Linked DNA regions of Homo sapiens: region 2 is linked to region 1. The links come from fine-mapping of genetic effects on gene expression. A gene starts in region 1. The other region holds a variant in brackets. All regions are shown on one strand. Distances are from middle to middle.

Region 1 (2,905 bases):
GGGGCTGGTGGCTAGCCCACGCAGAGGCTCCTCCAATGGCAGGCTCCTCCCCTCTGCAAGCCCTACAGCTCAAGGGAAAGAAACTTTCCCATCACAGAGAACTCAATAAACCAGTTTTCCAAAATCTCTCTTCCCTGTGTTTACCCGTTTGTTATGAATTTACTTCTTGGGTGTCAGAATATTTAAGAACTCGGTGGAGACCAGTTTTATACGTTTCCTTCTGTCCTTCCTGGCTCCACAGCTGCAAAAACATCATCCCCACTACTGAGCTTACTATGGGGCCACGCAAGGGTAGACGCTTGACAGACATTGTCCAATGTATTCCTTACTGCAGCTGCCCACCCCCGCCGTCCCCGCCCCCCAGGGAGACATTACTTCCGTCTTCCCCAAAAGGAAAACGAGGCACCGAGAAGTTAAGGAACTTGCTCAAGGTCACAGAGTTTGAACTCAGGCTACAGATGCTGCAGCAACTGGAGAAAGTCCTCATCGCCCCATATCACCCACCACCGACCCCCAGCAGGACGTGACCCCCGCCAGGACGGAGGCCGGCAGCTGGGGGGCTGGAGCATGGGACCCAGAACACGGACTCAGGCTTGCGCAGCCTCCTGGCTTCTAGGCGGGAGCCTAGAAAGGCGCCAGCCCCTTTCGCGTGCTGCTGAGACTCCAGGGGTGGGGTTCACTCTCAGGGGCGCACAAAGGCATGAAAACCTTGGCTTCAGCCTCTGAGATGCGGAACTGACCGACCTATTGTCTTGGGACCCACCAGTGCGCTTGGGTGCACCAGCCCCCTTAACGTTGGTGCCGGCTCCCTCCCGGCTCCTCCCCATCCCAGAGGGTCCCCTCGCCCCAGGCCCTGAGCCTGCGTCCTGGGGTCCTGGGCCGCACGTGCCTCTGGCAGCTCGAAGAAGCTGTCGGGGCTTGCAGGAGAGCGTGCAAACTGAAACCAAAACAGGCCGACTCGAGGAACATCCGGGTGGGACCGCAGACTCACCGGAGCGCAGCGCCTGGGCCAGGGCCTGGGACCCTGCTCCGCCCCGCGCTCCCCTGCACCCCTTCCCCACGCTGCTCCCCTCTTCCTAAGCGGCCCCCCCTCTCCCGGGCAGCAGAAGAAGGGGTGGGACCCGGGCGGGCTCCGGGAGGGGGCCCTGGAGGAATGGATGGTGGCGGAAGGGCGGAGCAGGGGCGGGGCCCGCGGAGACTCCACGGGGCGCCCCGGGCGTGAGGCACCCACTCTGGGAGCACAGAGAGCTCAGGTAGCCTGCCTAGATGGCGGCGCGCACCCTGGGCCGCGGCGTCGGGAGGCTGCTGGGCAGCCTGCGAGGGCTCTCGGGGCAGCCCGCGCGGCCGCCGTGCGGGGTGAGCGCGCCGCGCAGGGCGGCCTCGGGACCCTCGGGCAGCGCTCCCGCAGTTGCAGCAGCAGCAGCACAGCCAGGCTCGTATCCCGCGCTGAGTGCACAGGCAGCCCGGGAGCCGGCCGCCTTCTGGGGGCCTCTGGCGCGGGACACTCTCGTGTGGGACACCCCCTACCACACCGTCTGGGACTGCGACTTCAGCACTGGCAAGATCGGCTGGTTCCTGGGAGGCCAGTTAAATGTCTCTGGTGAGTGGGCTTCGGGAGACCCAGGACGCCCCCAACTCTTGGGTCCCGAGGGGACTCGGAGCCTCTCGCCAGCGGCAGCCGTCCCCGGGCAGCGCGGATCGCAGCCCTGCAGGGGCCCCTCCTCCGGTATTCCGTCCGCCCCGCCCGCTCTAAGCAGTGGCTCCACGTCACCCCGTCCCTCATCCCATCGGGCCCCAGATCCACGTGCCCAGCTCGGGCCGGCGCCCGCGGGGACCCGGCGGCCGCTTGGGACGCCCCGCTGCTGGCCTTGCTCGGCGCGGCTCCTCGCTCGGCGGACTCCAGAGTTGCGTTACCGGGTGCATAGCGCCGCTGAGCAAGAGCCGGCGGGGAGCCGCGGGCTACACCCGAGCGCCCCGGAGTCGGGACTTTCCCGTTCCCATACCGGGGTGGAGGGAAAAACAAAGCGGTGGCGGTTGTCACTGCGGGCTGCGGTGCCCGGGGATCAGCCTGGGGACAAGCCCTGCCCACGTAAACAAACAGAGCTGTGGCGGGCGACCTGGGGAGGAGGAAACTCGGCGTGGCAGCTGGAACCAGTTATTTCTTCGCTGCGGGCCTGGGGCCTGGGGCCTGTGGACGGGAAGGAAGTAACGGCGGCCTCCCCGTTCTCGTTCTCGGCCTCAGAGAACTGCACCCCAGCGACCTGGGGCCTGCTTTGGACCCGCGGGGTCTGACGTCGGCCCCAAACAGTTGACTGGTGGTCAGTTGTTTGGAACTTGCTGAGCAGAGGCCCTGCTGCTCTGCTAAGATTTGGGGCTGGGGGTCGTACACAGCACCCTCGCCCCCACCTAAGGCGCTGACTGGGCACCGAGGGGGAGGCCCTGAACTGCAGGCAGGGCTGGCCACGCAGGGTGGGTGCCAAGTGCGAGGTGGGCTCCGGATGCAGGGTGGGCCTGGGTGTGGGGCCTGCGGGGAGGGGCTGGCAGACACGGTGTTGATCAGAGGGATGCAGACCAGAAGGGTGGTCATAACCAGCTTGCTGGATTTGGGAGTGTTTAAGAAAGGACCTGCGGGTCTTTATGGCAGGGTCACCAGGGCCCCATTTTCTCCAACTCCTCCCTCAGTTGTCCTTGTTGTTCTGCCCCCCCAGCCCTCAGTCTCCTCATTGTGAGGATGGGGGCAGTCATGCTCAGAGGTTAGGCTGAGTGCTGCAAGGTGTGCAGCAGACCCAGCGCTTACTGGTGACCCATAAGCAGTAGCGATTTTAGATAACTTCAGAAATAGTCATACAATTATAGATAGTGTCTTGCAGTTATTTTTCAAAGAAATTGGAAGGAACTTTGGACC
Region 2 (2,905 bases), 30 kb after region 1:
TTGGGTTGTTTCCATTTTTTGGCTATTGTGAATAGAGCTGTTATGAATGTTCATGTATAGGAACACCTGTTTTTAATTTTGGGGGTATATACCTATGAGTGGGCTTGCTGACTCATGTGGTAATTCCATGTTTAACTTATCAAAGAACTGTAAAACTGTTTTGCTAAGGAGATGCACCATTTTACATTTCCACTAATAGTGTATGCAGGCTCCAGTTTCTCTGCATCTTGTTGTTTTTCACTTTAAAAAATTACAGCCGTCATAGTAAGAATGAAGTTGTATCTCATTGTGGTTTTGATTTGCATTTCCCTAATGACTAATAATATTGAACATCTTTTATGTACTTGTTGGCCATTTGTATGTTTTCACTGGACAAAGTCTACTTAAGCTGTTTGCCCATATTTTAATTGCTTGCTTGTCTTTTTGTTGTTGAGTATGTAAGTTACTTATATATTCTGAATATTAGACCTCTATCAGATATATGATTTGCAAATATTCTCCCATTCTGTGGGTGGTCTTTTCACTTTCTCAGTAGTAAACTTTGGTGTATAAAAGTTTTAAATTTTAATGGAGTCTAATTTATCTATTTTTTATTTTGTTGCTTGTGTCTTTGCTGTATTATTTGAGAAAACATTGCCAAATCTAATGCTGTGAAGATTTTTTCCTATGTTTTCTTTTTTTTTTCTTTTTGAGATGGATTCTCGCTCTGTTGCCAGGCTGGAGTGCAGGGGCATGATCTCAGCTCACTGCAACCTCCGCCTCCTGGGTTCAAGTGATTCTCCTACCTCAGCCTCCCGAGTAGCTGGGATTACAGGCACGTGCCACTGCATCGAGCTAATTTTTGTAGTTTTAGTAGAAACAGGATTTCACCATGTTGACCAGGATGGTCTCGATCTCTTGACCTCGTGATCCGCCCGCCTCGGCCTCCCTGTTCGTATGTTTTCTTCAAAGAATTTAAGTTTTACCTTTTTACATTTAGATCTTTAATTTTGAGTTGATTTTTGTACAGGGTGTGAGGTAAGGGTCCAGTTTCATTCTTTGTCCTATGGCTATCCAGTGGTCCCAGCGCCATTTGCTAAAGAGGCTGTTCTTTTCCCTGTTAAATGGACTTGGTACTCTTGTTGAAAATAATTTGACCATATATGTGAGGGATTATTTCTGGGCTCTCTATCCTATTCCATTTATCCATATGATTACCTATGTATCTATTATTATCTCAGTATCAAACTGTTTTGACACTGTAGCTTTGTAAGTTTTAAAACCAGGAAGCGTGAGTCTCCCAACTTTGTTCTTCTTTTTTCAAGATTGTTTTGGCTCTTCTTGCTTTCTTGTATTTTCATAGGAATTTTAGGATTAGCTTTTCCATTTCTGCAAAAAAAGATGTTGGGATTTTGATTGCATTCAATCTGTAGAAAAATTGGAAGGTATTGCCATATTGACAATATTAATCCACAAACATGGGATATCTTTCCATTTATTTAAGTATTTTAAAATTTCTTTCAACAATATTTTGTGGTATTCAGTGTACAAGTCTTGCATATCCTAGGCTAAATTTATTCCTAAGTATCTTATTCTTTTATGAATTTTTATAAATGGAATTGTTTTCCTAATTTCCTTTACAGATTGTTCATTGCTAATATGTAGAGATACAGCAATTTTTGCATAGTGATCTTGTATATTGCAAATTTAATGATTTATTAGCTCTAATAAATAGTTTTTTTGTGGATTCATTAGGATTTATACATAGTAGATCATATCATCTCTGAATATAGTTTTACTTCTTCTTTTCCAATTTGGATGTCTTTTATTTCTTTTTTTTTTTTTTTTTT[G/TG]CCTGATCACTCTGGCAACAACTTTGTTTACAATGTTGAATTGCAGTGGTGAAAAGTGGGCATCCTTGTTTTGTTCCTGATCTTAGGGGGAAGGCTTCAGTCTTTTACCATTAATATGATGTTAGCTGTGGGTTTTCAGATGCTCTTTATCCATTAAGTTCCCTTCTATTCCTAGTTTTAAGTGTTTGATCATCAAAGGGTGTTGGATTTTGTCAAATGCTTGCTCTGCGTCAATTGAGATGTGTTTTTTCCTTCATTGTAGTAGTGTGATGTATTACAGTGATTAATTGTTGCATGTTGAACCACCCTTCCTTTCCTAGGGTAAGTCCTGATTGGTCATAGTATATTCTGTTAATATGCTGCTGGATACAGTTTGCTAGCATTTTGTGGAAGAGTTTTGTATCATTGTTTATATGAGATATTTGTCTGTAGTTTTCTTTTCTATAGTAATCTTTGTCTGGCTTTAGTATCAGGGTAATGCTGGCCTCATAAAATGAATTTGAAAGTATCTCCTCTTCAATTTTTTGGAAGAGTTTGAGAAGGATTGGTGCTAATTCTTTAAATATTTCATAGAATTCACCAGTGAAGTCATCTGGTTCTGGTCTTTAGAAAGGGAAGAAGATGGGTAAACTGAGACACAGAGAGTTTAAGTGACTTACCTAAGGTCACATACCTAGTAAGTGACAGAGCCAGGAGTTGAACACAGACATTCTGCTGCCATAGTTGATGCTTTCAGCATTATGCTAAGCTGCCCCTTTTCTCTCTTGCTGGTGTGGCCATGGTCACCCAGTGCTTCTGTTGAGATTGTTTGAAACAAGCAATAGCAGTTGACTCTTGGTGACTTCATCATGTGGGGATTTAGTAGCTGGATGCTGGGGCAGCTCCCAGAACCTCAGAATTCCTAAACAACCAAGCATGGGAGGGCAGGGGCCATGACTCTGTCCTGAAGAGGACTCTGCCCTGATATCCTTCAGCCTTTTTGTGCAGCTCTGCAGGTACCAGGTTCCTGGGGACAAGATTCTGTTGAGATGGGTATCTGTGTCCTGTTGGGTCAATGAGGGGCTGTTTTGGTTTTC

Evidence for each region.
Region 2: its variant is fine-mapped to the expression of ACSS1 in whole blood (INTERVAL, PIP above 0.99).

What each region holds. Positions count from the first base shown.
Region 1 is chr20:25,056,464-25,059,368 of GRCh38, reverse strand. It overlaps ACSS1 (acyl-CoA synthetase short chain family member 1), which reads left to right and starts at 1,230. Exons shown (of 14, transcript NM_032501.4): 1 at 1,230-1,600. The coding sequence starts at 1,267. RefSeq lists enhancers at 749-1,354, 2,005-2,134 and silencers at 975-1,504, 1,635-1,904.
Region 2 is chr20:25,026,704-25,029,608 of GRCh38, reverse strand. The region is part of intron 3 of ACSS1 (acyl-CoA synthetase short chain family member 1); the gene reads left to right. Among named protein-coding and RNA genes, the nearest start is that of ACSS1, 30 kb to the left of the region's middle. The variant G/TG (reference allele first, on the strand shown) is at 1,830.